Linked DNA regions of Homo sapiens. The protein of the gene in region 2 purifies or fractionates together with the protein of the main gene of each other region. This does not show direct contact. Each region holds a gene or a part of one and is shown on either strand. Other genes may lie near its edges.

What was found.
Region 1: the proteins of PDPK1 (region 2) and GPC1 purify together in Homo sapiens (affinity purification with mass spectrometry; 2 studies listed by BioGRID and IntAct, with this or other methods). This does not show direct contact.
Region 3: the proteins of PDPK1 (region 2) and OSBPL8 purify together in Homo sapiens (affinity purification with mass spectrometry; 2 studies listed by BioGRID and IntAct, with this or other methods). This does not show direct contact.
Region 4: the proteins of PDPK1 (region 2) and GTF2I purify together in Homo sapiens (affinity purification with mass spectrometry; one large-scale study listed by BioGRID and IntAct). This does not show direct contact.
Region 5: the proteins of PDPK1 (region 2) and FGF2 purify together in Homo sapiens (affinity purification with mass spectrometry; 2 studies listed by BioGRID and IntAct, with this or other methods). This does not show direct contact.
Region 6: the proteins of PDPK1 (region 2) and GPC6 purify together in Homo sapiens (affinity purification with mass spectrometry; one large-scale study listed by BioGRID and IntAct). This does not show direct contact.
Region 7: the proteins of PDPK1 (region 2) and STRAP purify together in Homo sapiens (affinity purification with western blotting, with the first as the bait; one study listed by BioGRID). This does not show direct contact.

The regions. Positions count from the first base shown.
Region 1 is NC_000002.12:240,438,477-240,442,716, forward strand, and holds part of GPC1 (glypican-1 precursor), read left to right. Parts: intron 1-4,240. UniProt on the Homo sapiens protein: Cell surface proteoglycan that bears heparan sulfate. Binds, via the heparan sulfate side chains, alpha-4 (V) collagen and participates in Schwann cell myelination.
Region 2 is NC_000016.10:2,544,346-2,548,585, reverse strand, and holds part of PDPK1 (3-phosphoinositide-dependent protein kinase 1), read right to left. Parts: intron 1,759-4,240; exon of another isoform or gene 1-1,758. UniProt on the Homo sapiens protein: Serine/threonine kinase which acts as a master kinase, phosphorylating and activating a subgroup of the AGC family of protein kinases.
Region 3 is NC_000012.12:76,367,591-76,371,830, forward strand, and holds part of OSBPL8 (oxysterol-binding protein-related protein 8), read right to left. Parts: intron 3,995-4,240; coding exon 3,858-3,994; intron 2,233-3,857; coding exon 2,047-2,232; intron 1,712-2,046; coding exon 1,624-1,711; intron 1-1,623. UniProt on the Homo sapiens protein: Lipid transporter involved in lipid countertransport between the endoplasmic reticulum and the plasma membrane: specifically exchanges phosphatidylserine with phosphatidylinositol 4-phosphate (PI4P), delivering phosphatidylserine to the plasma membrane in exchange for PI4P, which is degraded by the SAC1/SACM1L phosphatase in the endoplasmic reticulum.
Region 4 is NC_000007.14:74,744,116-74,748,355, reverse strand, and holds part of GTF2I (general transcription factor II-I), read right to left. Parts: intron 3,599-4,240; coding exon 3,415-3,598; intron 2,474-3,414; coding exon 2,415-2,473; intron 2,020-2,414; coding exon 1,945-2,019; intron 342-1,944; coding exon 240-341; intron 1-239. UniProt on the Homo sapiens protein: Interacts with the basal transcription machinery by coordinating the formation of a multiprotein complex at the C-FOS promoter, and linking specific signal responsive activator complexes.
Region 5 is NC_000004.12:122,829,578-122,833,817, reverse strand, and holds part of FGF2 (fibroblast growth factor 2 isoform 18 kDa), read right to left. Parts: intron 1-4,240. UniProt on the Homo sapiens protein: Acts as a ligand for FGFR1, FGFR2, FGFR3 and FGFR4. Also acts as an integrin ligand which is required for FGF2 signaling. Binds to integrin ITGAV:ITGB3.
Region 6 is NC_000013.11:93,827,973-93,832,212, reverse strand, and holds part of GPC6 (glypican-6 precursor), read right to left. Parts: intron 2,060-4,240; coding exon 1,668-2,059; intron 1,398-1,667; exon of another isoform or gene 1,258-1,397; intron 1-1,257. UniProt on the Homo sapiens protein: Cell surface proteoglycan that bears heparan sulfate. Putative cell surface coreceptor for growth factors, extracellular matrix proteins, proteases and anti-proteases. Enhances migration and invasion of cancer cells through WNT5A signaling.
Region 7 is NC_000012.12:15,884,784-15,889,023, forward strand, and holds part of STRAP (serine-threonine kinase receptor-associated protein), read left to right. Parts: intron 1-4,240. UniProt on the Homo sapiens protein: The SMN complex catalyzes the assembly of small nuclear ribonucleoproteins (snRNPs), the building blocks of the spliceosome, and thereby plays an important role in the splicing of cellular pre-mRNAs.

The DNA.
Region 1 (4,240 bases), on a different chromosome or scaffold from region 2:
CCTGGACCCTCTGTGGCCTAGTAGGCACCATTCTCAGTCCCCTCTCTCCTGCATCCAGACTTCTCCAGGGGGACCTCCTCAGAGGGAATGCGAACCCCCTGGGGTTGGGCACCTCGCTGGCCCGGAGCAGGTGGGGTAGAGATCTGATACTTCCTCGTGGGAAGGAGAGCAGTTGGCCCTGGGTGTGTGGCGGGCCTTCCCAGCCTCTGCCCCAGGGACCAGAAAAGGCAGTGGGTGACAGGAGACTTAGCTCATGAAAGAGGGCAGTGTCGGGACATATTGGGCTCCCTTTTGAGACTTCCTTTGTCCTCTGGACAGCCAGGCCAGGCTGCAGTGACAGCAGTGGTCATCCCATTTTATGGGCAAGGAAGCAGGCCTGGGTGCCACCAGCTGGACGGTGGCACTGCAGCAGGGCACCCGGCCACCCTCCCTTTATGCCAGGGCACGGCACAGAAGGCAAGGGCGGAGCCGAGTGGCACCCCGGGTGCCCCTGCGCTGCCAGGAGCCCTCATGCTGAATCACTGCCCGCGTGCCAGCAGGCCTCCTGCTTTTGCTTGCAAGGTTGTGTCTGGGCATAGGTGTTCCCAGAGCACCTGTCTGGCCTCCTGATGTCTGATGTGATGTGATGTGTGTCTGTTTGCTCCTTTGCTGGGGTCTCAGCGCCCCACCTTGGCACCTGAGCTCCCTGGTCGCTGGGACCACCTCTAACTGTTTCCCTGTTGTAGCCACAGAACCCGGCTGGCTCCCGGCCCAGGATAGCTTCTCGGAGGACACCCCCAGGCCTTCCTGGCTTTATACCTGGCTGTGCTGGGTGGGGAGCGGGACATGGAGGGTAGAGGAGGGTCTCCTTGGAGCAGACACCCCTGTTCTCAGGGTCTCCCAGCCTGAGGCAGAGGAGGGGCCCTAAGGTCTAGTTTTGGGGGCAGAAGTCAGAGTGGGGCATGGGACTGTCGGTGGCACAGAAACTGCCCAGCCGCTCCTGTGCCCAGAGTGGCAGCCCGCCTACCAGCTGGAGCGGGCACCAGCGTGCCCTGGAGCCTGTACCAAGCACCCACTCGTTGGGCCCCTCCGAAGGAATCTTTTCTTCTCTGTGCCACTTTTGACCGCCTGGGTGGTTGGCACACAGACTCTGGGGAACCATCCTCAGAGGGCCTGGACCTCTCCTTCCCACATCCCTGAAAGGGTGTTTCCGGCTGGGCCCGGGAGAGCCCACCAGCATCTGCTTCTCAGTCCTGCTCAGCGGGCCTCTCGGAGGCTGCCTGGCACACAGCCCCTCACCAGACCAGACAGTTCCCTGTGCCCTGTCCTGTCCAGGTGGCTCAGCGTGGTTCCCAGGTGGTCCTCAGCCTTTGCTGTGTCGCTGCTCTTCCCTCCATGAGAGGAGCTCATCATCCCCAGCGTGAGGACCGAGCGGAGCCCAGGGGAGCCCTGATCCGACAGGGCCACCTGCGTGATGCAATGGCCTGGGTCCCTGCTGGACCGCCAAGCCTCCCATGCCAGGCAGGCCACAGCACTCCTCAGGCACAGATGCCCCCACCCCCATCCCATCCCCGGTGTCCCCGGGCCTTTTCACAGGAGAGAAAGGGAATAATCGTGACCTCCTGTGAAGGTGGCCAGGAGGGAGAAGGTGCTGGGGCTGTGCACCTCGTGGGCAGCCTCGGGCTGTGTCCCCCCTCTCCCCGGACACCCTCTGCAAAGGCCCACACACACCCCTCTCAGTTAATGGCATCCGGTACCCTAAGAGCACTCATGAACCCGGGTGCTCTTAGAACACGGGGAAACCCGGCTTGTGGAGCGTTTCCCATGACTGTCTGGTTAACACATCAGACGGAAGGGGTCTTTGTAGACCTGTTTTACAAATGAGTAAACCGAAGCCTGGTGAAGCGCTCCTCTTAGGGCCAGATCTGGCTACAGCATTGACCACTGCCCAGTAAAGCCAGGCCAGGCTGCTTGTCCCAGGCTCTGCACTTCTTGGAAGGCTCGTGCTTTTCCCAGCCCGCTCTCCTGTCCTGGGCCTGGGCTCCATCTCTTAGGCTCATTTAGAACGTTTAACCGGGACTCCTCCTGGCCTCCCTGCCTCCGGTCCTGCCCAGCTCCTCCTGGCCTCCCTGCCTCCGGTCCTGCCCAGCTCCTCCTGGCCTCCCTGCCTCCGGTCCTGCCCAGCTCCTCCTGGCCTCCCTGCCTCCGGTCCTGCCCAGCTCCTCCTGGCCTCCCTGCCTCCGGTCCTGCCCAGCTCCTCCTGGCCTCCCTGCCTCCGGTCCTGCCCAGCTCCTCCTGGCCTCCCTGCCTCCGGTCCTGCCCAGCTCCTCCTGGCCTCCCTGCCTCCGGTCTTGCCCAGCTCCTCCTGGCCGTGCCGCCCAGAGAGTCGTACTTCCACACAGCTGGGCCTCACCCTCCGGCCTGGCTCCACTGCCTGTGGGGGGCAGGACTGCTAGGAGGGCTGTTCCCAGCGTGTGCCACGAAGCCCTGCATGTCCCCAACAGGGCAGACCAGCCACCCACACTGGGCCAAGTGCCCCAGGATTAGTGGACAGGTACCCTATTCAGGTGCCCACAGGTGCCAAGCCAGGGAGATAAGGCAGTCCAGTCTGTTGGGGCTTGTACCTTCACACCAGCAATCTCTAGGGACAGTGTGAGCCTGTGGTTAACGCGCCTTCCCAGGTACCGAGGACGCCTCCCTACAGCAGGACGGGGGGCATACCTACCTGGTGGCCGAACCGCAGGGCTGCACATCAGACCTCGGAGGAGAGCTTAGTGGGTGTCTGAGCATGCCCATGTCTGTTCTATGGCATCCATGTGCATGGCACAGGTGTCAGCCATGGGCTGGCACTAGACAGGAGACGAGCCAGGGGAGGGGCTCACCCGAAGCCACACTGGTCAGGTCTGGCCTGGGGCCCCACATCTGCCGTGCCCGGGCCAGTGAGAGGCTGGACGCCTTTTCTTAAGCCAGACCGTCCTCACAGGGCCTGGCTCAGTTATTTCAGATCAAGACTGGACCCGTGGTGGAGGCTGGGGTGGGCACTCCTACATGCGGGGCCTCTGCCCAGCCCTGGCCCTGTCCAGTGTCGACGTGCCCAGAGCCCTGAGCCGGCCTGGATCTTGCCAGTCGCCAGCACAGCCCTGTGGGGCCCGGGATCTTGCCCACTTTACGTGGGGGCTCCAGACAGGAGCCGCCTGCCCGGAGCCTGGGCTCCTCGCTGCCGTGCCTGTGGTGGCTTTTCTTTGTCTGGGAACAGGCCTGGGCAGGTGCCCTGAGCCGCTTGAAGTCTCCTGACGGGGTGGGGGGTGCAGTGTAGGGTGTTGAGGCTTGGGCCAGGGAAGCGGGCGGTTCTCCCTCCACCTCCAGGCCCCACACCCAGGCGGGAGCACGCAGCAGCCAGGTGTTGGGTGAGGGCTATGCTGAGGAGCAGGGCCCAGAGCTGCAGCCTCCTTGGCTGCCCTTGGCCCGCCGTGGGTGGCGGGGAAGTACAGGTGTGAGGGGCATACCCCACTGCCCCAGGCTCGGTAGCAGTCTGGAATCCGGGTGGGTTTAGGAGCCCCTGAGAGGGCCAGGCCAGCCTCACACCATCCCCTCTCCTGCCTGTGGCCTCAGCTCCATCTCCCGCCAGCTCCTGCTGACCCACCTTTCTGGCACACCTGTCCCCTCCCTCCACGGTGTCCTCCCTGTGCCCACCCACAGCACCCGCCTCCTCCGGCCTTTCCCCACAGCTTGACTTCCCGGGCATCGGCCAACACGTACCCTCCCTGTTGCCGGGGCCCCCGCCTGGGCAGGCCTGAGCTCCACACAGGGTGGGGAAGGCCCCGAGTCCCTCCCGGTACCGGGTGGGGCTGGGTGCCGGGGTTGGGAGCACAAGTGTTTCCAGGGCTGTCGGAACAGTGCCACAGGCTGAGCAGCTGCAGCTGCAGACATGGGTCGTCCGTGGTTCTAGAGCCTGGAAGCCTGAGATCAAGTGTGCGTCCACCAGGCTGGCCCCTTCTGAGGCGTGAGGAAGTCTGCTCCACACTGCCAGCTTCCAGGTGTTCCTTGGCTGGTAAATCCCACCTTGGCCTCCACAGGCCGCTCTCCCCGTGTGCGCTTCTGTCTCCGAATTCCCCCTCTTCACAAGGACACAACTCTAATTGGGTCAGGGCCCACCGGTACCATCTCTTCTTAACGAGAGGTGTCACACAGACTCCACACCCAAAGTCACATCCTGAGGAATCGGGGTTAGGCCTCAGCCATGTGGGTTTTGGGGGTACAG
Region 2 (4,240 bases):
TGATAAAATCCAAAACAGGCCTGTCGCTCGGTGAGTAGTGTGGTGCCAGCGCGAACACCTCAGTTTCGACAGAGTGACAGAGGTATCACGGTCATGTCATGGCATTAGGGGAAGCTGGCTGGGGGAAATTATGGAAATTCTGTGTCGTCTGCAATTTTTCTACATACCTAAAAGTATTCCAAAATAGTTGATGTTTTCAATAATTTTTGTTAGGAGGCTACTTTGAGAGCTTCAGGTAAACTCAGGATCTGAAAACATCCTGTGTCATTCAAAACCTGACCCTGACTCAACGCTGAACGTTAACTTTTAAAATGTAGGGCTACTGAAGGGAAATAATATACCTGGAAGGAAAAAAACCCTAACAGAACAAGTTTAGTATGAATTTCTTACTACCACCAACTTCTTTGGCATGTTTTGTCCAAAAGGTCTCAGAGTTTGGATGCAAACCCAGCCTCCCAGCAGAAGCCAGCTGTATCAGGCGAGTGCAGGCCGCCTAGAGGTCCTCCAGGCCCACACGAAGAGCGCGTCCCACTCAGAACCTCCCCCACTGGAGGCCGATTCCCTGCTCAGGCAACCCAGACCTCCCCGAGTCGCCACCCCAGCCAGGAGAGCTCCTCCCCTGCTAGTCCACGTTGGGGCCCAGACTCTGCCCGGCTCTCTGAAGCAGCCCCACAAAGGCCGGTCACCCTCTCCTGCTCAGACACTAACTACCCTCCCTCTATGGGCACCATCTGCAACGGCCGTGCTATTGACTGTTTCCCTTCTGCCCCTGGGGCTCAGAGAGGGACAGGAGCATCAGGTGGACCGTCCCCCTTCAAGCTGTAGAAGCCATCTTTTTCACACAACATTTCCTCAGGCCAGGAGCATGGGGCCCGTTCTGTTCATAACCACTTTTCCTAAACCAACCGGGGCCGTCCTCACCCTTTCTGCCCCAGGCACAAAGCTCAGCGCCAGCAGCATCTGCACAGGAGAGCTTGCTAAGATTTTTTTTTAAGCATCATTTTGAGCTTCCGACTTTTTACGGAATGAGAACGCAATGCGTTCACCAAGAAAATCTATATTCAGATGCACATTTTAAACTAGATATCTGATAATAACCAGGTACGTACATACAATCAAAAGACTGTAATTCTGACCGATGGAAAAAAGCCATGAAAGACAAATGCCAGCCTGCAGGAAGAACATGTGAGTTACCCATGGAAAAGCAGCCGGAAGCGCTCCGAGCATCTGAGCGTCTGAGCCCGTGCTCTGAAGGAGCTGTGTACTCCCTCAGCCTGGCGTCCAGAGTCAGGCCCAACTGGGAGAGAGAAACGCAGACGAACCTAGCGCTCGCCCTCAGGAAGGACCCCCTGATGAGGTCCACATGGGGGGAAATGAGCAGCCGTCAGCCTTCCTAGCTCGTAAGTTGGGAGCCTGCTCACTAACCTGCCTCCCCAGGGTCTGGCTGCTGCGGCTCTCCAGATCAAACCTTCCCAAGAACAGGGCTGAGCAAAGCCAGCGCTCCATTCTTCCAAAGACTGATCTGTCCCCATCCTTTCCCACAGGGGAAGTCCAAGCAGTGCTGTGTGCCAGCCAGCACTGGCACACGGTGGGTCTGAAGGTCAATTAGCCCCGCCCCCACCGAGGTCGGAGAGCTCTCACTCACTGAGCCCTGGGCCTGGGTGCACAGCGGGGACTCTGAGACAGGTGGGCTGCTGAGATCCTCACTGCTGGGCTCCCCAAGGACCATCAGTCACACAACCATCCTGCGGATATAGCTGCAGCTCTACAGGTGGCTGCACCCACCCACAGAGCACACGTCCCTTTTGCCGCCACAGGACACCTTAGAAGCTACAGCAAAGTCAAGGCCTAGGAAAAGCCTCATGGCACCTTGCCCAAGCAGGAAAGAGACCAGGAGAGTAGGGCCCCGCTGTCAGGAAGGAAAAGCAGCTTAAGGTTAGAAGGGCCACTAAGGAAGGCCGGGCACGGTGGTTCACACCTGTAATCCCAGCACTTTGGGAGGCCAAGGCAGATGGCTTGAGGTCAGGAGTTCAAGACCAGCCTGGCCAACATGGTGAAACCCCATCTCTACTAAAAATACACAAATTAGCCCAGCATGGTGGCAGGAGCCTGTAATCCCAGCTACTCATGAGGCTGAGGCAGGAGAATCGCTTGAACCGGGGAGGTGGAGATTGCAGTGAGCCGAGATCGCGCCACTGCACTCCAGACTGGGCGACAGAGCGAGACTCTGTCTCAAAGCACTTTGGGAGGCTGAGGTGGGTAGATCACGAGGTCAGGAGTTCAAGATTAGCCTAACCAAGATGGTGAAACCCCGTCTCTACTAAAAACACAAAAATTAGCCGGGCGCAGTGGTAGGCACTTGTAATCACAGCTACTCAGGAGGCTGAGGCAGGAGAATCGCTTGAACCCGGGTGGCAGAGGTTGCAGTGAGCCGAGATCGCGCCACTGCACTCCAGCCTGGGTGACAGAGTGAGACTCCATCTTGAAAAAAAAAGTTACCTTTAGCTCATCATCTCCTAAGCAGTATTCTTGCCATAAATACTTAGCCTGAACCTAATCTAACAAGGAAACAATGAGACAAATCCAGATTGTGAATCCTGTATTTATATAAAATACGAGACAACTACCCTCATATTTTAAGAAATGCTGGCCAGGTTGCTGTAGCTCATGCCTGTATTCCCAGCATTTTGGGAGGAGCAGGTGGTAGGATCACTTTAACCCAGTCCAAGACCAGCCTGGGCAACAAAGCGAGACCCCATCTGTACAAAAAATTTTAAAAATTATAATTAGCCAGTGCTGGGCATGGTGGCTTACGCCTGTAATCTCACGCTTTGGGAGGCCAAGGCGGGTGAATCATGACATTAGGAGTTCGCGACCAGCCTAGCCAAGATGGTAAAACGCCGTCTCTACTGAAAATATAAAAATTAGCCGAGTGTGGCGGTGGGCGCCTGTAATCCTAGCTACTCATGAAGCTGAAGCAGGAGAATTGCTTGAACCCAGGAGGCGGAGGTTACAGTGAGCCGACATCACACCACTGCACTCCAGCCTGGGGAACAGAGCCAGACTCCGTCTCAAACAAAAAAAATTAGCCAGGTGTGGTGGCACAGGCCTATAGTCCCAGCTACTCAGGAGGCTAAGGCTGGAGGATGGCTTGAGCCCAAGGGAGTTCAAGGCTGCAGTGAGCTATGATCATGCCACTGCATTCTAGTTTGGGCAACAGAGCAAAACTCTGTCTCTAAAAAAAAAAAAGAGAGAGAAAGAAAGAAGAACAAGAAAGAGCTTTGAGGAGGACAGGTGACCACTGAGGAAGGCTGCACGTCACCTTTGCATTAGAAAATGCCACGTTACAATAAAATTCCACCTCTACTAAAAATGCAAAAATTAGCCACGACTGGTGGTACACACCTGTAAGTCCCAGCTACTTGGGAGGCAGAGGCAGGAGAATCACTTGAACCCAGAAGGCGGAGGTTGCAGTGAGCCAAGATCGCACTACTGCACTCCAGCCTGGGCAACAGCACGAGATTCCATCTCAAAAAAAAAAAAAAAATGCAATGTTAATGCTATCTCGGATGTGATGATGAAGAGGTTGTACAGGTGACAGCTTCTGAGCTCAGAAGGCATCTGGAGAAGGATTCTGGGGTGAAATGCTATCATGTGTGTGACTTACTTTCAAATAATAAAAATAATAGAAAAAAATTTTGGGCCAGGTGTGGTGGCTCATGCCTGTAAATCCCAGCACTTTGGGAGGCCGAGGTGGGCGGATCACGAGGTCAGGAGATCAATTCCATCCTAGCTAACAGGGTGAAACCCCGTCTCTACTAAAAATACAAAAAAATTAGCCGGGCATGGTGGCAGGCGCCTGTGGTCCCAGCTACTTGGGAGGCTGAGGCAGGAGAATGGTGTGAACCCAGGAGGCGGAGCTTGCAGTGAGCCGAGATCGCGCCACTGCACTCCAACTTGGGCGACAGAGCGAGACTCCGTCTCAAAAAAAAAAATTTGGGGGAGGTGAGGGGGTAATGTATACAAGCAAATATGGAAAAGGTTAACAACTGGTAGAATCCAGGTGAAAAGGCTAGGGATATTCATTGTACTATGCTTTCAACTATTCTTCGGTTTTGAAATTTTTCAGAACAAAAATTAGTGGAGAAAGGTTCATCCTCAGTCCAGTAAGTTCCAGGAGACAGAGCCAGACCTACCTTATTCACCACTGTTTCTCCACTGCTAGCTCAATGTGTGGTCC
Region 3 (4,240 bases), on a different chromosome or scaffold from region 2:
ATTTTGCTATTTTCTATACGTCATATACGTTTTTTGTTTCTTATTTACTCCATTACTGCCTGCTTTTGTGTTTGCTTCCTGTGTAAACTGTTTCAATTCCCTTCTCATTTTCTTTTGTGTGTATTTTTTTAGATATTTCATTTGTGGTTACTATGGGGATGACATTTACACCTACCTCTACAACAATCTAGTTTGAGTTGATACCAACTTAACTTCAGTAGTACATAAAAACTTTCCTCCTATACAGCTCCATCCTCTCTGCTTTTATGTTGTAATGAACTATATCTTTACACATTGTATGTCTGATAACAAAGATATGTAATTAAATTATTTTTCATTCATTTATTTTTTAAGTCCTGCAGGAAATAAAAAGTGGACTTACAAACTAAAATTACAATAGCACTAGCTTTTATATTTGTCCAACTATTTACTAAAAATCTTTATTTCTTCATACAGCTTTGAGTTTCATTTTATTACATATTTACCTTAGCATTTTTTTGTAGGGCAGGTCTAGTGGTAATGAACTCCCTCAGCTTTTATCTGGGAATGTCTTAATTTCTCCCCCATTTTCGAATGACAGTTTTGCCAGATACAGAATTCTTGATTGACAAGTTTTTGCTTCTACCACTTTAAATATGTCATCTCATTGCCTTCTGGCCCCCATGGTTTCTATAAGATATCGGTTGTTAATCCTATGGATGATCCCCAGTGTATGTGATAAGTTGTTTCTCTCTGCTGATTTTAAGACTCTCTTTGGCTTTTGACAGTTTGTTGTGGTGTGGGTCTCTCTGAGATCATCCTACTTGGAGTTTGTTGAGCTTCTTGAATTTGTAGATTTATATCTTCCACCAAATTTGGGGATTGGGGGGTCTTCTTTCCTTAAATATTCTTCATTCATTTTTCTGTCTTCTCTTTGTGGAACTCCCATAATGCAATGATAACCCACTTGATGGTGTCCCATGGGTCCTTTAGGCTCTGTTCACCTCACTTCATTCATTTTTCTTTCTCCTCCTCAGACTGGATAATTTTTATGGTCTTATCTCTAAGTTTCCTGATCCTGTCTTATGCTTGCTTATATCTGCTTTTGAATACCTCTAGTGAATTTTCATTTTTGTTATACTTTTCAGCTCCAGAATTTGTTTGGCTCCCTTGAATAATTTGTCTTTATTGATTTTCTCAGAGATGAGTGCCTGTGTAAGTCCTTCAGGTAGTATTCTGACAGGTTAGGACAGACATACACAATTGTGTATGAGGTCCACTCTGCTCCTTCTGGAACTAGGGACTTACACTGGCAACGCAGGGGCTCTTCAAGACTGCTACTGCACTGGGATGGACCTGGGGCAAGGGCAGGTAAAATGCCACAAAGCTTTCCTCTCTTTGCACTTTCTTGACCAGTGTTCACTTGGTTGCTGAACACCTCTGACTGTTTTCCAGAGTTCTGGCAAATTGAGTTGACAGTTTTTGCTTGTTTTCTGATGTTTCTTTGGGGTAAGAAGAGTTCAGAGCTGCGTATTTTGCTCACCCAAAATTTTAAATTTTGAAACCAAATTTTAGTTGGTTGCTATAGATACTAAAGATTTAACAGATTTATATACCTAGTGTACCTAGTTTTTTATTACATACCATTGGAGTACGATGTTTCACTTTGGTCTGAATAACACCATCTTTTTCAAACTGTATCATATCATTAAGTGGGTCCCATGGTCGGGTACTACATAAATGAAAAAAAAAAAAACCATTTGCTCAATGACTAAACAAAGAACTTTAAAACTTTCTATTCTATGATCCAATTTTATTAATAATTATATACATAGTTCTAATAATGAGATTTCCCCATACCTAATCTTCAGATCCTCAACTTATTTTATAGGCTAACTTCTATCATAGAGTCAAGCTTATAATGAATGCAAAACCAAGTTTAAAAATCTCACACTAATATACATGGTTTAATTAAATAAAAACTACTCCAGCAACAAATATTCTAGAAATAAAGGCAACAAACCATGCTAATACATTGTTTGAAATAAACTATTTTAAGTTACTTACTCTGCAAACTTGTAATGCCATTCTCCTGTGAGTGGATCAAGTTCAAATAATTTGCAAGACCACTCTTCATTTTTTGTTTTCCGATCCCTGGCAGCTTGTCTTTGAGCTTCTTCCAAAACATACTTCTCTTGGGTAGCTTCAGTTTGGTCTTTGGCATTTATGGCTCGAGTTACCCGTTGCCAGAGTCTAATACATGTGCGAAAATATTAAAAGTATTAAAAATGTAACAGAAAATAAAATCTATATAGAATAGGCCTCAAATCCCTTGTAGAGAAAATAATGCTCACATGAATTTCTGGCTTTGACAACACTTATGCTCATAGGCTTAGAAATGAGTCAAGATATAAATCCAGTCCCTTGAGTAGAGAGAGACCTGTTCATAAGTGGAGACTAATTTTTTTTACTTGGCAAGAGAAACTTACTACATAGACTCTTAAACTCATGATAGTAAGTGTTGAAGTGTTGCTGGCTCAAGATGATAGGATGTAATGAAGGTAAAGCTCAGGAATCTACGCTTTTAGCAAGCTTCCTAGATGCGTCTTACACTGTTTAAGATTCACTGGCTTCATAAAGATCCATTAATGTAATGCAGTGCTTCTGAAGTTTGGATCCATGAATTATCAGAGAATTTTTATAATCAGAATCTCTGGGGTCAGGCGCAAGTATTGATATATTTTTTAAATGTTTCCCCAAAATATTTTAATGTATTGCTAGTGTTGAGAACCACTGGTTTAACAGAAAAGACTACTGAGGTAAAATGATTTCCCCTACTAGTTCTTTCTTCTGTTAAATAAAAGTATATCTATATCCTACCCATCTAGAAAGGCAGCATGTTAAAACCAGAAAAGGCTTTGGGATCAGATAGACATGAGTCAAGTCCTAGAGCTGCCACTTCTTAGCTGGTGCACTTAAAGTTATTTATCCTAAGTCTCATTTCCTCATCTTCAAATATGCTGAATTATATACTCTCACAAATTATCATATGTATGCCTTGGCAAAGCTTATCTCTGGAAAAAGAACATCAAATGGTTATGGCTGAGACAGAATTTTTAGAACTGGTACATATACATTCTTCCATCTTTGACAACCTCAAATTTGAGTGTAGAAGGGAAGGTACACAGACTTGAATTCCCATGACAGAGAATGATATGTATGTGCAAACATGTAGGGAGGACAAAGTTGCATAATAAGTACTAAGTGCCTAGCAAAATATCTCTTATACATAAGTCTCTTTCTCTTAACACAAAGATATAACAACAATAAAATAGGGAATGTGTATACAATATTTCTGATTCAAAAATATAAGCCATCTAGCAAGAAGTTCATGACTTAAGAACAGAAATGATAGCCTTAGTTATTACCCAACTAATAAATCCTATAGAAGCCAGTCCATCCAGTAACTTTACTTTTGTATCAGAGAATGGAACAGAAGTAGATTCTGCACCACTCCCTTTACCTAGAGTTCTAATGCTTAAATCAGGTTAGAAAACTGTTGCCAGGTAGAAACTAAGAGTCATTAATTAGTCCTGTAATCTTATTTAAACAAAAACGTTCTTTCTTTCTTTTTTTTTAAGGTGCTGGAACAATTGAGAAAGAAAAAAATGAGTAGTTTTGAGCTACAGAAAAGCAAGACGATTTATATTATATTTGACATTCATATACACAAAAACAGAATACTGTCACTTCCACAAATGATAAACTATTTTGCTGAATTAAGATATGACAGAAGGTGACAAAATGACCATATCATTAAGGAATTGAAAAACTACTCTCTGATCCTCATGAAGTTAGCTGTAAAACAGTATACTTACTTCTCTGATTCAAAATCTCCCTGTTCTTCAAATTTTACAGTGTGCCTTATTAATCTCCATTGCTTAATGTCAGGTGTTGGATTCCAGAAAACCTCTGAATTATCAGTCTTTTTATCAGTAATAAAAACTTCACTATCCTATATTTAAAAAAATTCAAAATTAATGTAAAGAATTATACTTAGAAGGCAATTATATAGTATAGTAATATGACGGTGATAATTTCTTCTGGTTAATCCTCCAGTTAAAAGCATTTTTAAAACAAATATAACTAGCACTTTTCCAAAAACTCCAAGTTTCTTATCATTTTTATAAAAACATTAAGATTGACTACGTAATACTAGTTAATTAAAAAGAATTTGGTTGAATATCCAGTTTGTGAAATT
Region 4 (4,240 bases), on a different chromosome or scaffold from region 2:
AAAGTAATGTTATTACCATTTTGCACAAAGGGAAACTGAGGCAGGGTGTATTCGCCTGCCCAAGTGGCATCGGATTTGAACTCAGATCTGAACTCAGGCAGCCTGGCTCTACGGGCTATTCCTTTAACCTTTGATATATACTGACTCACCAATAGGAACAATTCACCTGGTAAAATGAAACATAATGAACGTATTCTATTTAAAACTATGAAAGAAAGAAAAATAAAACGCTTACTTACCAAAGGAAAACTCTCTCCCTCGTGGCTTGAAGGGAACGTTAGAACCGTTAGTCTGGGTCGGGGTTCGAACAGCTGAGGTTTGAGGATTGTTGTTATTAGGGCCTAAAAGACAGAAAAAATAATGATAATCAACACACATTTAATGACGTAAGTGTCTCTAGGTTACAATCTTCAAGTCCAGCCTGTGCCAGAAAACAAAGCTAGGTTCAAATTGAAATGGGTATTCTTGTCATTCCGGCGAGTTCCACAGAAACCATTTTTCTATTTCTACAGAAACCCATTTTTCTTCTCTTCTTCTTCTTCTTCTTTTTTTTTTTTTTTTTTGAGACAAAGTTTCGCTCTTGTTGCCCAGGCTGGAGTGCAATGGCGCAATCTCGGCTCACCACAACCTCTGCCTCCTGGTTTCAAGCGATTGTCTTGCCTCAGCCTCCTGAGTAGCTGGGATTACAGGCATGCGCCACCAGGCCCAGATAATTTTGTATTTTCAGTAGAGATGGGGTTTCTCCATGTTGGTCAGGCTGGTCTCGATCTCCCAACCTCAGGTGATCCGCCTGCCTCGGCCTCCCAAAGTGCTGGGATTACAGGCGTGAGCCTCCACGCCTGGCCCTAATTTTGTATTCTTAAAGCAGGCCTCCCAGGCCCCGTGAACTTGGCTCTGCCCTTTAGGAAAGGCTGGCATCTTGTATATAAGAGAGATCTTCCTCTGATCTCTTCCGGAAGGAGGAAAGTCAAGGGTTCAATATATTTTTAATTCTTGGCATTTTTGAACAGAAATAATTAATCAGGTGTAAGTTGTCCATGGATGCTTGTTGGCTATCTTATGAGAAAGCAGGCTCTCTGAAAGTGTGCCACATGACTAAATAGGGACTTCTGCGCCACTCAACACCAGTACGGCAAACTCTTATTTAAAAACTTGACACCTGGGATGTAGAGAATGATCCTAATGCAGTGATTTCCTTCTGCATTTATGAAGAGATGGAAGAAATATCCATACTTGACAGTTGGTTGGAGATTGTCTTTAGTATTGTATGCAGTATTTTAACACTGTGAGCCTGAAAAGACAAGAACCAGCTGGGCGTGGTGGCTCACTTGAGGTCAGGGGTTCGAGACCAGCCTGGCCAACGTGGTAAAACCCCGTCTCTACTAAAGATATAAAAATTAGCTGGAGTTGGTGGTGGACGCCTGTAATCCCAGCTACCTGGGAGGCTGAGGCAGGAGAATCACTTGAACCCGGGAGGCGGAGGCTGCAGTGAGCCGAGATTGTGCCACTGCACTCCACCCTGGGCAAGAGAGCCAGACTCTGTCTCAAAAAAGAAAAAGAAAATACTTTTATTCAAGGCACTGCTGTTTAAACCACCCTAAACTTTCTTTCCTTAAAACAATAGAAAAAAATGAAGAGGAAAAAAAAGATAAAACATTCCACATGACTCTGCACCCTTATTTGTTATGATAAAGGAAAAGCATTTTAGGACTTTTCTTGGGGGAAGTTTATGATGTGATCCATGTTATCTGTTTTCTATTAAGGATTTAAAAATTTTCAATTAGAAGCATTCAGAAATTTAGCTTTATCACAGGCAGCTGTTCACAGTTAAAAGCTAGTTTGGTTAACGTCATCTGTATAAACCTGTATAAACACATAGCTAGTGAACTGACATAATTAGTAAACTAGAGAATGAACAGAAACATACCGAGGACTGGCCCTTACCTTCCACGGTGACCTCAATTTCAGGAACCTTTGAATTACTCCCAGGACTTCGTGGTCTTTTGGGGGACTGCAAAGCTGTAAAATAAGCAGAGTTCCTTTTGTATATTGTAGGGAAAAAAAAATACAGAAGGAGATGCTTTATAAGAGCAGAGTATTAAAATTCATACAGTTTGGTTCTTTTCAAAGAAACCTGCAGAATTAAACTTGTAGTGTAATCCTCCACAGGGGCTCAACAAAGCTGTGAAAACATGAATGAACTGGGATTGCAAATGTGACATTTCCAATGAAATGTTTTGTTTTTTTAAAAAAAAAAAAGAAAAATAGTTCCATTAAATAAAATACCTTAGAAAGCAAAGTAAACAACTCCAAGCCCCACAGAGATATTGGCCGATTCCGTATGATTTAAGGAATGCGGATAAAGAGTGTCTTAATGCGCTCAAATAGGATACGGAGTACACGTCGTCTCTTACCTTTAGTGTTTATTTTACTAGCCATCCCAGGAGGCAAGTAGGAAATAACTAGTTCAGGTCTAGAAAGAAAACCAAGAAGTGTTACAGTAGCCAGCACAGTGGTGGCCTCACAGCTAGTAAAACGGTCGTGATGTGATCAGGGTTTTTTTTCTAAAGGCATTCACAGAATCATCCTGTAACACAATAATTCCTAGTGTTGTGGACAAAAGACCCTGACTTTTCCTTCCCATGACTGGTAAGCCATTTTATGAAGAGTAAATAAGTGACTATTTTCATTAAAAAAGAAAAAAAAAACACTAGTGTACTTTCTTTAGCCACTAAAATTCTGCAGAAATGTAGATAAGAAAATCAATCATTAGGCCGTGCACGGTGGCTCATGCCTGTAATCCCAGCATTCTGGGAGGCTGAGGCGGGTGGATCACCTGAGGTCAGGAATTCCAGACCAGCCTAGCCAACACGGTGAAGCTCCATCTATTCTAAAAATACAAAAATTAGCCAGGCGTGGCGGTGCAAGTCTGTAATCCCAGCTACTCGGGAGGCTGAGGCACGAGAATTGCTCGAACCCAGGAGGCGGAGGTTGCAGTGAGCTGAGATTGCGCCACCGCACTCAAGCCTGGGCGACAGAGCAAGAGTCCGTCTCAAAAAAAAGAAAGAAACTCAATCATCAATATTTAGTCGCTCTCAAGATTGACCAGGAATAACAGAGCAGATAAAAACCAGCAAATTAAACTTCCATTCAAGTACTCAGGCATACTGCGAGTCACCACGGGGCCTCACGGTGACTCCGCGGAGGCGATTGTCACTATTTTCCTTGCACGGATGAAGATGATTGAGTATGGGCAGGGGCAATGGACAGTACCCGGACTGCAGCTCACAGCCAGGCTTTGCCATCAAGGACTTACAGCCACGCCTGTCACCTCTAGCTTGAAAAACATCTTAACAGAAATGTCATTTTATTGTTTTGATTCCAGAAACGACTACAGTGGCAAAAAGAACTTACTTTTTAACAACGAACTTGATTTTATTACTCCCGCGGACGATCCTTTCAAGTCGTGGAATTCCAAACCAGGTAGGGCTTCGGAAGGGAATCCCCTCTGGCAAGCCTTCCACATACAAGAACTCCGGGTTTGATTCAAACACAGGATATGGTACTTTTACTGCCTCGGTGAGTCCAAGAGCTTGAGCTGAAAGTGCAAGAGAACGTTAAGTTGCGGAGGATAACATTTGACACAGACATTCTTTCTTTGTGTCTACATTCTCGAGTACAGTATGGACAAGCTCCCTACGGTCAAGCAATATCCACTTCATATTGAAGGCATTTTGCTTAGGATATGGGGCAAATCTGAAGAACGAGCCTAAAAAATAAGTGCTTTTAGGAGGAACATTTTAACACTTTCAATCAAAAGGAGAGTTATGTTATTAGTGAAAATGACCTCTATGCTCTGGGCAGAAATGACCGAAGGCCATTCCACACAGCAGTGGACCCTGCTGGCCTTTGTGTTATCATCAAGAAGCAGGGTGTCTGTTCACAAACAGGCGGTGTCTACGATACAGCTAAGCAGCACTCAGTTCGAGTGGTCAGAGGCAGGGTAGTCAGGACTCCTGATCTGAGACAGGAAATGTCAACCCCAGGTATTGAGATAATGGACAGAAGTGCCCCGGGAATTTTGCTAGCACTGCCCACTCCTTACTTCCTTCTCCATGACAGACACACCCAATCAACTGAAACACTCTTTCTTGCTGAGCCTCCTCAGAATCGTTCTCAAGACAGCACTCCAGGAAACCGCTGTCAACAAATCTAAGCTGAAACAAATGATGAAACCTAT
Region 5 (4,240 bases), on a different chromosome or scaffold from region 2:
ATTATCTTCATTTAAAGATTGACCAAGTATCTAAACACAGATGTCAAGACACCAAGAAAACTGTAAACTTTGACCAAGCTTTATACAGCATATGCCTCATGAGTAGTTATTTCACAGCAAGTTCCACAGAGAATGTTTTCCTCATCAGCTGACATTTAGTGAGCACTCTCTGAGTAAAAAGTACTGAGCTTTTTATGATGTTTATTTATATAAAGAAGTCATGGTTCCTACCTTAAGGTGCCAGCATCTTAAGGTGCCTAAATTATGAACAGAGAATAATCTGTTCACAGAATGCAGCCAGATCATTACTACTCTGTACAAATTTCTTTTAAAAAATACTTTTTTCTTGGCTAATTTGAGTTATCATTTAATTACAAGTTTTCATTATAAATTAATGTATAGCTTAATTATAAATTAAACCAGGATCATTCCTTTCAATTGTTCAATTATATCTGGAACATACACTTAATATTCACATAGCTTCTCTTCAATTTTTAAATCTCCAAAATACCTTGAAAATCTGTGAACTTTTCATTTCAGAATTCTATTGGATAATTCATCTTAGAGGTTAAATTGCAGAAGTCAATAGCTCTATAAAAATACAAATACACACATACACACACACACACACACACACATCCATTATACATTTCTGTAAATGAGTAAGTATCAAAGATACACCGGTCAAGTCAAAAGTCACCTTGTGCAGGAAGAGTGACAGAAGACAGCTGGATGAGACATAAACACTGAATATTGGCTGTCTGTTGCCTCCAGGCCCTTCCAATTTCTTCAAACTAAAAATATTCTGAAGGTGTTTAGAATGAGACTGGTCTGGCTTCTAAGAACCACAGTCTATGGCTCAAAGGGTGAGTTCCCCTGGAAGTTGCCACTTTTCTTTTCCTCCTCTCCTAAATTCCTGTGGCTATACATAACCTAGCTTAAAAGGCCTTGTTGGCGGTCATTATTAAAGGGAGAAAAGAGAAAGCAGGAGCTAACTGAACAGTGGATACAACAAGGAAACACTTAAAATCACAGTGCCATAAGTGCATTTTCTAATGATCCAGCTAAAACTCTACACTGATAATCATTATTCCAAATTATTATGCAAACAATCAAGCATTAACTATTTATTGAGCACTGACAATATACAAATTAAGTACTAGACCAGATCCTAATTTCAGAGCACAGAAAAGGACAAACTCAAAAATAAAACAGAACAAAATACATTTGTTTGGACAGAATATCCTGATGAGGTTAAGATTTGTGCCCCAGGCTGGGCACGGTGGCTCACGCCTGTAATCACAGCACTTTGGGAGGCTGAGGTGGACAGATAACCTGAGGTCTGGAGTTCGAGACCAGCCAGGAAAATTCATGGTGAAATCCCGTCTCTACTAAAAATGCAAAAATTAGCTGGGTGCGGTGGCAGGTGCTTGTAATCACAGCTGAAGCAGAAGAATTGCTTGAACCCAGGAAGGAGAGGTTGTAGTGAGCTGAGATTGTGCCACTGCACTCCAGCCTAGGTGACAGGGTAAGACTGTGTCTCAAAAAGAAAAAAAGAAAAAGATATGTGCCCCAAAGATACAGATTTGCCTTGCTCCGTTTCATGGTCATAGACTTTTATCCCATGCCAGCCTTCTTACAGACGTGTGCTACGGGACATAGGGGCCCAAGTAGGGTATCTGGAAAATCAACAAACACTAGAATTGGAAAAACAAGCAAAGACTACAGCACATGTGTAATTACCAGCTTGTACAGGCATCTCGTGGTTTTAAAATAGTAGTTCCAATAATGTGAGACCTTAAATTGTCTTTTCAACATCACTGATGATGAGTTCTCAGAATCAGTGTATAGATGAAGAAAGTCAATTTTATGCTTATGATATTTAAAGAACCGTTCTTGTTTTGTTCATTACATCTGTAACATTTTATTTTCTAATTAAACTTTAAAATTATGTCCTTCCACATAAAATGGCATCATAAATCAAAATGAGAATACTTAAAACCCAATTGTTACACCATTGTCAAAGTCTAATTACATAACGGTCATTTTATAAACAAATGAAACCCCTCAGGGCATGTCATGAGGGGATATTGCCTTTTCTAGGCTGAAGTCACTTGGCATCAAACTCATCTTAAAAGGCTCCTAAGGTGTGGTAATATCTATGACTCATGAATTGTCCTTTCATTGCTGTACTGATTACATGATTTCCAAGATTAAATGAGCTATTAGATTCTGACTTCATTTGTTTACTGCACCCAATATTTATTACAGTAAATATCACGTTCATTAAGTAAAATTATTGCTATCCACTTGCCAGATATTACCAAAGAGAGGTGGGGGGAGAGAATCTAGTACGTGTATTATTAAATCAATGGTTCTATTTACCCCAAAGGCAGTAGTGAAGAGATGGAAAGGTGGCTTTATCCAAAACCCCAGGAAATCAACCTGAGGCACCCGTAAACTAGTAAGAACTCTTCAAAGGGGCTAGCAGCTCACTACCCTGAAATGGAGGAAGCCTAACCAAAGTGGGGTCCAGCAGGGCACACTCTATGGTGGAATGAAGAGCGCACTGAGGCTGAGGGATGGCAGGAAGAGAAGGCAAGGGACCAGGTGGTAAGAAGCTCATTCAGGATAAAAAAAGAGGAAACCCACAAGTGAACTTGAGTAATTGGTGACTTTTCTGAGCTTCAGTATCCTCTTCTGTAAAAAGAGATGGGTAAACCAGAAGGTCTGAAGCCTCCCTTTGATTTCACAAGTCCATGTTTTTATGCTTGGGGTTGCATGGAACACATGCAGTAGCAAAGAGCCCAGGGGTCAGGCCCACCTACAAGCCACCCCTGCTCCACACTGGGGTGGGCAGGTCTGCCTTTCCAAGTCTCAGCGTCCTCTGGAGCCTGCAAGCAAAGAAGTGTGGCACACAGGCAGTCACCTCCTGGGAGAAGCCCAAGGGTAGATACAGTACTTCTAACTACTCTCATTTTTTTTTTTTTTTTTTTTTTTTGTAAATAAGAGCACCTGGAATAAATTGAATACTAAGTGTACATAAGCAGCATACATTTCACTTACTATACTCTACCACATGTTGTACGTGCTGCTTGGGATAAAGTGTTCTCTCTTCTGAATGTTTTTACACAGCTTGCTACTTTAGAGTACATACTTAATATTATCCATTCCCACCGCATTGAAAGAGGCCTGCCAAAAGTTAAGGATGCCAAAAGAAAGGCAGGAGTGCAGCGCACATGCTGGAGAAGGAGAAACTCTCTAACCACTTTTAACATCTTGTTTTTATCAAGACTCTCATGTCAAATGAAGATTATTCCAGGACTATGAGAAAAACGCCAGAAAATGGGCCCTTTTGAGTGCAAATTCAGGAGAATGCCCAGGTGTGAAGCACAGTTGACCTTCAGCAACACTGAAAAATTGGAAACATTTGTGTTGTGTCATCTTCTCCTACCTCTTCTTTTAGAAAATTTTCCTCTCTTTCCTACCTCACAGCTTCCCACTCTGCCTCCTCTTCCCCTGCACCTCTCCAGGACCCCATCATTTATATCACAGTCTTCAAAGCATCCCTCCCCAAACTCCAGTCCTTCTGGCCAGCTTTTGGGGAAGAAATTGCACTCACAATTTAATCCATACTAAATGTTAAAATCTGATAATGGTTGAACTTGGCCTTTCAAAAGTTACCTGCAGTTTAGAAAACATGTAGGCACAAAGTGTCATGCCAAAGGAAAAAAAATTCCAGTGACAGATGTTCAGGTCAGTTGGACAAAACAGTCTGAGGAATGAGACCATAGATTTTTCAACTTTTCAAACAGGTCTAGAAATCTGAGCCATAATGTAGTAGGAAACTGTGGCTACTATTAACTCTTCTCCATGTTTTCTGGTCAGTTTTATTTGTTTTGGGGGGTCTCCTCATGGTTTGGTCAACTATCAGTAAACATCCAATATGTGAGAAAATAATATACTGTACTTAAATTTATGTCCAGGTTGGGCTACATAGAAATAGATGAAATTTGTCATTTTTAGATTTGTATTCTTGTCAGTCTATTGCCTGGTACAGGTATCCTTTAAAAAAAGAGTAGTCTCTTTGGGGACTTGGGAAGAAAGGGTGGGAAGTTGGGGAGGGACAGGACTACAAACTGGATTCAGTGTATACTGCTTGGGTGATGGGTGCAACAAAATTTCACAAATCACCACTAAAGAACTTACTCATGTAACCAACTACCACCTGGTCCCTAAA
Region 6 (4,240 bases), on a different chromosome or scaffold from region 2:
AAATGCATTTCTGGGGCTCTAGTTTCTTTGGTATCTAAAACATTGTTGAGATTCAATGTAAGGACATTATATATATATATATATATATATTTTTTTTTTTTTTTTTTTTTTTTTTTTTTTTTTGAGTTGGAGTCTTGCTCTGTCACCCAGGCTGGAGTGCAGAGGCTCGATCTCAGCTCACTGCAAGCCCCGCCTCCCAGGTTCATGCCATTCTCCTGCCTCAGCCTCCAGAGTAGCTGGGACTACAGGCGCCCACCACCACGCCTGGCTATTTTTTTGTATTTTTAGTAGAGATGGGGTTTCACCATGTTAGCCAGGATGGTCTCGATCTCCTGCCCTCGAGATCTGCCCGCCTCAACCTCCCAAAGTGCTGGGATTACAGATGTGAGCCACCGCGCCCGGCAAAGATATTATTTTAAACATTAGAATCATATGCCCTTTATATTGATAAATAAGCCCTTGTAATTATTTCCTTCAGCGCCTTCCTAGAAATAATCTTTCTGTATGCTCAAATAAACGTTTAGGAAATTAACAATTTAAAATGGGCTATTACGGATTTTACTGACAGTGCAATAGAGAAACATTTGTAAGGGTACACACCATCTTTATGCTAGGATGTAAATATTGAGGAGACCAAAGTGTCAAAAAAAAAAAAAGAAGCATTGTAGGACAGTACCAATAGTTATGAAAAATACTGTGGCTCTTTGGCACAGCCCTCCAATAGAAAAGTAGTGTTTGGGAATAATCCTTATACAAATACACCTTCTTGGAGTGACATAATACCAGATTCCTGTTACGTATTATTTTTAACTTTACTTCTTTAAGTAATTGTCTTTCATTTTATTTGGAGGACTGACCTCACAAGTGCCTTAAATGTCAAGAAAGAACTTAAACAAAAGCAGATATCCTCTACACAGGAAATATTCAATGTTTAAGTAGTGGAATGTAGAATTATCCCTTATATCCAAGGTATAGAGATGTTATCTTCAAGAAAGGCCCAAAAGTAGATTAATGATTGATCTTATTCATAAGCCCAAGGCAATGCATGGTATGAAATTACAAAGATAAGGGGTAACAAAAGAAATTCTCTAGGAGAATCTATACTTGGTACTCATTAGTCCTTCCTAATCCAGTAATACAGGTGTCAGCAAAGGGCTCTTCTTTTACCATGAAGGAATTTGGCCACATTGACATGTGTTGAAAAAGAAGAAATGCCAGGTGCTGATGTCCTGAACAATAACTTGTCTCCATTCGCAGGTCCATGAAGACTGTCATCTTGACTCCCTAGAGGATTATAACCTCTGAATGGATTCTTTCATGAGTATTTATCATCCTTAAAACCCTGATCAGAAATATCAAATGATCATAGTTGCAACGTGCCTGCTTTTGCACCATTGGTACTAAAAGCTTCTCTGCTATACTGCTGATAAGTATTAACATTAATTTTCAAACCACATAGAATGGCTTAAAATCCTGTTCTCTCTCACACAATGCAAGGAAAAGAAAGCCAGAATTATGCTTTGATATTTAACTGATTAAGAGCAAGGACCACCAATTAAGAATTTTTACCTTGGTTTTTTTTTTTTTTTTTTTTTTTTTTAAACATTGGTTTTAAAAACAGAATAAACAAGGAACACCAATGAGAAAGAAAGCACGTTTTCAATTACCTTGGAAACTCGGTTTGCAACTTCTCTGCCCACAGTCAGCCCCTGGACAAAGGTCCTGGCAGCAATGAAGGCGCGGGTAACCTGAATCTTCAGTTTCCGGGGCACGTCTCCAAATGGCTTGAGCTGGTCAGTGTATTTGCTCACACATTCCAGGTAGTCTTCACTGAAGTGATACTGAGGGTTTATCAGCTGAAACATCCGTTCCAGGAGCCGAGCCCAAAAGTCATTGAGCATTTCCTCCAGATTCACATTACCCCCAGTGTAGTACCTTTTCAGCTCTGTGAAGAGGTCCTGGAAGACTTCTGAATTCTGCATGTACAGCATGCCATAGGTCCGTACAAACATATCATTTAGTGACTTTTCTGCATTCTCCAGGAGCTCTCGGAAAAATTCTGCAGATAAAACAGAAAGAAGTCATAAATTAATGAAATCTAGAAAGCCCAAGGCACCCACTTACCTTAAGTACAACTGCTTTTAATTGACATTTTCATGGAAAAACATATCCTGTGATTAAGGTGTTAATGGACAGATAAAAAACATATTTTAAATGGGATTTGACCTACATCTATGACCTTGTACAACTCAAAACAGAATACCCCATGATTTCCATTAACATTAGGAGTCTACCATGTAATCCTCCTCCAAAATAGCTCAATTCTTTAATCATTTCTTGTTAAATTTTAAATAATCCTATGGTTTGATACAAACTCAAATCAAAATATATTGCAAATATAACGTGCAGAGTATTGTTGTTTACATAATGATAAACACATTTGCTTCAGTTTATTTATAAATTTGTCCTAACACTAAATTCCATTAAATTGCTTTTATTTGAAATAGTCCATAAATGAGATGTTCAAATTAATGTCATATTTTAGACTCTTTCTAGTTTCTATATATAGCAATCAATTAGCAATGTTCAGATATTCATAATGCAATTAAATTCACTTCATAATAAAGCTATAATGAGCATAATTTAGGTGGCCATAATGAGTCAGAAAGCCTTAAAGTATCTTGGATTATCATTACAAATATAAACCATCATGTTATAGAACTTGAATAAAATATTGACAATTGGACTTTCTGGTTATGAGGTTCTAAATGAAAAAGTGCACACCAATAATTCAAATCTTCCACTTTGCAACAGCGCTTGAGTGTTACTGGGATCCCTTATAGGATGCAAAAAAATAAGACAAAAATTAAAGCCATTGGGTATCATTAGCCTCACTGGCCCTCATGCTAGTCTCCCTCAAGACACACTTTGTGTGTGTAGGGCACCTATCCTTTTGCACAAATAAGCTTGGGTAGAGCAAGTTCAAGTTTTATCTCATTTAGAGATTATAAATTGGGGTAGGGAAAGAGCTAAGGAAAGATAATGCTTCTGAGGTTATCAATCTAAGTTCCCAAGAGTAAAATGATTCTGCTTTACCTCTTCATAGTCCCCGTTTATTGCCTGAAACTATGCCCCTTCTCAGAAATGCAGGGACAAATCAAGTCCTGCATATTTCAAAAGCTCCAGGAATTTTTTAAAAGGACTCTTCTCCTTTCTGGGGTTCTGGGTATTCTCTGCTAAGATACAGAAAGGAAATAGTGACGAACACCTCTCCATTAATTCCATGGAAGCTACTTGTGCATTCTTAGAAGTTGGCTGAAGAAGTGCTTGGTTTAGCCACTTCAGTTCTGATTAATATACAATCAAACCATTGTCTTGATAATTAAATGGTGTCTATAATAATGATAAATGTTTTATATTTGTTTTCAAATCAGACCAAAGCAGCAATGAAAGTACTTTTCATTTGTTTACCTCCTTTCTATGAAATATATATATATTTTTAAATAGACATTCTGTTGCTACAGTGGCAGCAAAAACTGTGGGATTACAAATACTGTGTAATTTTGTCCAGGTCACCAAATGGTTTTTATTTTTACTAAATGTAAAATAAAGTTGAATATTATTAAATCTCTCTGAATCTTTAGGGATTCGGTAAAGAAAATGACTATTGAAGCAGATAGGGCGAAATTTGCAAAATTGAGAAGCATAAATTTATCAAAATATTTATATATGCTGTATGCTGATATTGCTTATCATTTTAGGAAATCAAGAGAATTTCATACTTTTTTCAAAAATGCTAGTTATCTAGTTTGTCCTAAAATGGAAACTATATTAAATTATTAATATAAAAGTATGAGAATATCATAAGTTAAACCTTCCGATCTGGAAACCAAGAATGAAAGTAGCTTGGCCTTGCTGATACAGGAACAGGGTGGAAGGCGTAACAGATTGTGAAAGAAGATAAAAAAGAATGGGAAAATCACTGAATTGAAAAATACTAATACAATGAGACTGGAAAGTGGATTCTAATCATGAGCTCTGCAGCCTATTCATTTATCTTCTTTTTGAGGTCAATTATTTTGTTGGACTTAGGAATTAAAGCTTAATTTATTGAATACAGAATACTGCCTTCAGCAATGAATAGTAATCAATAGTGTGGTCTGGATTTGCAAAGAGCTTTAAAAAAAAGAGAAAGAGAAAAAAAAAAATTCTCTGATACTCATTGCTTTCCAAAGTCTTG
Region 7 (4,240 bases), on a different chromosome or scaffold from region 2:
CTTTCCTGATGTGCAGTCATAGAATTGCTGACCTAAAGGACACATTTCAATTGTTGGCCCTTTACAGTTTGCTTCATCCTAGTTCATCAGCATCATCCTCTGCCATTGCACACCATAAACCTACAATCTAATTATACTAATCTTATTGTTGCCAGAATATACCTTACCTGTTCTGACTTTTGGCGGTTAATTATGTTATTAAACTGACTTGCAGTGGCCCTCGTTGCCTTTTTGGGAATGTATCATATTTTATAAATCTTGTTATCTCCAGTTCCTACTTGGTATTTGTAACTTAGGAATTTGACACTTCATTGTTTAAACTGATGAAGGCAATATCAAGAACTGTTGTGCATACACAGATTTATTAGACTTAAGAGGCTAGAGAGTACAAGTGGTGTTTTTTTTTTTTTTTTTTTTTTTTTAAAGACAGAGTCTTGCTATGTCCCCAAGGCTGGAGTGCGGTGGCACAGTCTCGGCTCACTGCAACCTCCACCTCCCGGGTTCAAGTGATTCTCCCACCTCAGCTTCCTGAGAGGCTGGGACTACAGGTGCACGCCACCACGCCTGGCTAATTTTTGTATATTTAGTAGAGACGGGGTTTCGCCATGTTGGCCAGGCCGGTCTCGAACTCCTGACCTCAAGTGATCTGCCCGCCTTGGCCTCCCAAAGTGCTGGGATTACAGGTGTGAGCCACCGTGCCTGGCCTTTTTTTTTTTTTTTTTTAACAACCTCACACTAAGGAGCAATTGTAAATCTGCTGCCTCCTTCATTTTAAGTACATTAAACATACCAATTTTAGAATGAAAAAATGAAGGCTGATTGACTGTGGTGGCAGATACGTGACTGTATGCTCTTGTTTATTGAAACAGTGTTGTTTTTATGCTTTCTTAACATTTCAAGTCTCAATGTCTGTGTTTACAAGTGGTGTATTAAGAGCATGAAGGCTGGAGCCAGATGACCTGAATTTGAATTGGTGGCCTCATGCACTTTATTTAACCATTTTTTTTTCTGTCATGGTACCTAATTCATAGGTTGGTTTTGAATATTAAATAAGTTAATATGTTTCGAATACTTACAACATTGCCTGAAGTCTATTACACCTATGAAAGTGTTACATATGTAAAGTAACGATGATAGCTACCATGTAAACTATCACCACCCGCACTTGATCAAAATCACATATTATTTTGAAACTAATATGGCTAAAGCCTTCAAACTATTTGGCCTCATATAAGGAAGATTGAATAGATTTAAATGTCAAGAAGGAAGATTTTTGTGATTTTTTTTTCCCCCTCCTCAGTTAAGGCTTTAGGTGCTGTGTTAGAGTGGAAAATAATAACAAGCATTGGCACTAGGTGGGCTTGCATTCGTGTGCTAACTATGCTGTGTATTTCCAGTTTGATCATCATAGGATTTTTTTTTTTTTTTGAAACAGGGTCTTAGGTGCCTAGGCTAGAGTGCAGTGGCGTGATCATAGCTCACTGCAGCCTCTATCTCCCAGTCTCAAGCAGTTCTCCAACCTCAGCCTCCTGAATAGTGACCACAGGCGTGTACTACCATGCTTGGCTAATCTTTGTGTTTTTTGTAGAGATGGGCTTCACCATGTTGTCCAGGTTGGTCTTGAACTCTTGGGCTCAAGCGATCTGCCCACCATGGCAGGATGTTTCTTAAATGTCGGCTTTCATATCTGTAAAATGGGACTAAGACCCATGAGATTATTGGAGGAACAGAGAGATCTTTCTCCACCATATATCCCTGAAGTCCAATATGATCTCTGTCACATAGTAGGTGCTCAATAAATGCTAGTTGAGATTTATCCCTCATTTCCTCTATGTCTTGTCTGTGGGGTGTAGGAGCGTGTTTTCATGTGCGTGTTTGTGTGTGTGTGTATTCTCTCCAAGAAGTTACTCCCCACAGCCTACCTGATTAGTCATGGTTGGTATAAAGCATTTTTAGAAACAATTTTTTTTTCCCTCCATTCTTACGTTTCTTGGAAAACTCATTTATGGTGTGGTCATTTAGAAGTGGAATTTGGTCCCGTTTCTTGTGGAGAAATTTAGCAGAATAGGTCTGTGGACTAGTGTAGAATGTTATCTTGGAGTAATTCGGGCAATTGAGTCCAGTGTTGAGTACAGTGTCCCTAAAACACCATCTCTTTGTATCTATTTGGGAAGAGTGCCAAAGTAAAGACAATTCTGTGCTGTGCTCCCAAGAGGGCTTAAGTAGATCTGGGATTGGGTCCAGGAATTTATAGGTAATCACAATGTATCACTCTTTCTTTCTTGTAAAGCCAATAGAAATATCTAATTTTAGTTTTAATAAGGTTCTTGATAAATCGAAAATGGTATTATCTCCTAGATGACTTGGTCAACATGTTAAGGTATTTGGGCAATTTTTTAAAAATCTTAAACTGGCCTGTTTTGTTGAAGGTTTAAATAAGTAAGTTAAGCAGCTCCTATTATGAGACTTACGGTAAGTTCATTCTGAGGATATGGAAAGTATCAGGCAGCATTATTATTTGCAAGAAACTGGGGTATAAGAGGTAACAGTAGTTTAAGGAGATGACAAGTACTTCGTGGGATGTGAAGAAAATGTTGGAGGGTTAGCTGCTGAAAGGGTATTGTTAATAGCGCTTTACTGTCTTGATTTGAGCCCTGTGGCCAACTAATATATGTCAATTTCTTGCCTGGAGATTGAATAATACATTAGGAAACATTTAGATTAGATCCATTTTAGGGCTCTTACTGTGAATAATGGAAATCTGCCAGAGTTAGTACATGCCCTGTCAGAAAATGTCATGCCTCTATTTTAGTACTGTTTCTAAATAGGAGGAAAAACTACAGACACATTACCTCTCTGGTTAATATTACTACTTTGGTCACTCCAACTCTCTTCTCACCTTTGAATAGACACAGTCTAAGCAGAATCTTAAGATTTTAGAGCTGCCATGTTGGCGTTAGCCTGTAGCTACTTAGGAGGCTGAGGTGGAAGGATCTTGAGGCCAGGAGTTCAAGTATAGCTTGGGCAATATACCAAGATCCTGTCTCAAAAAAAAAAAGAGAGAGAGGTTTTAAGTTTATGGGAGATTATTTAATAAACTTGAAATTAGCATATCAAAGGACATTGCCCGGGTTTCTTTGGAGACTTGTGAATAATTAGAATAGTAATTTTAGATACATTTGTTGTTTTCTTCACTTTTGATGCTTTCTGTCATTCTAATACTTGTGAACCCTTACCACAACCATGAAATGCATTTCACTGTGATTAAGGATATATGTAAACAAAAAACAAAGCAAATTTAAGCACCGTAATAAGTGGAGTTCTGTGGGAGAACAGAAAGGAATGGTTAATTATTGGAGTTGAGGATAAATAGTTTCAAAGAAAAGATAGCATTTGAAATGAGCCCTAAGGGTGAGTAGAACTTTAATAGCTAAGAATGTAAAATACAGACTTAAGAGAATAATATAAACAAGAACATAGGAGCCTGGAAGAAAATACGTAAGTTATTTGAGGAGTGGTTTATAATCTAGTGTTGCTAGATTCAGAGAAACAATACAAAATGAGGTTGGGAAAGTAGATTGGGGCCAGAGAGTTGCATTGGAATGACAGAGAGAGGAGCAAGTTTCCTGGGCAAAGAGAAATGAATACTAGGGAGTTTAGCAGCAAGGCTACTTATAGTTGACATTATTTCTTTCAGAACATATTTATTCAGCCACTCACATGACCCACATTATTAAATATTGCAAGCTTTGGTAGTGTATCATGAGCATTCCTGTTAGATGGTCTTTCATATTCATTAACCACATTGCACATGCTATTAATGCTTATCTAGAATAGCCTTCCCTTCTTTTTCCCCTGATATATTTCTCTTTGCTTCTTCCGACGGCTAGCTCTGTTACTTACATTTTCTGGACAATATCTAGGTGCTTTTTTCTGAGTTTTTATAGCCATATATATGTCTTTTAATTATATTTCTTAAATGTGATATTTAATGCATGTTTTTCTCCTCAGCTAAAGCTCTACTATGGCAAGAACCTACTGTGGGGTATTTTTTGTCTCCCATTTGTGCCTTAGCACTAAGTATAGAATGATATATATTTAATATATTTTATTATGTATTGGGGTAAGCAAAAGAAAAGATACATCTTGCTTTTCTCTGATTTTTTTCCCTCTACCATTTTATTGCCCACTGTGTTCCTGAAAATAAATAGCAGTTGCATTAAAATGGAAATCTCTATGG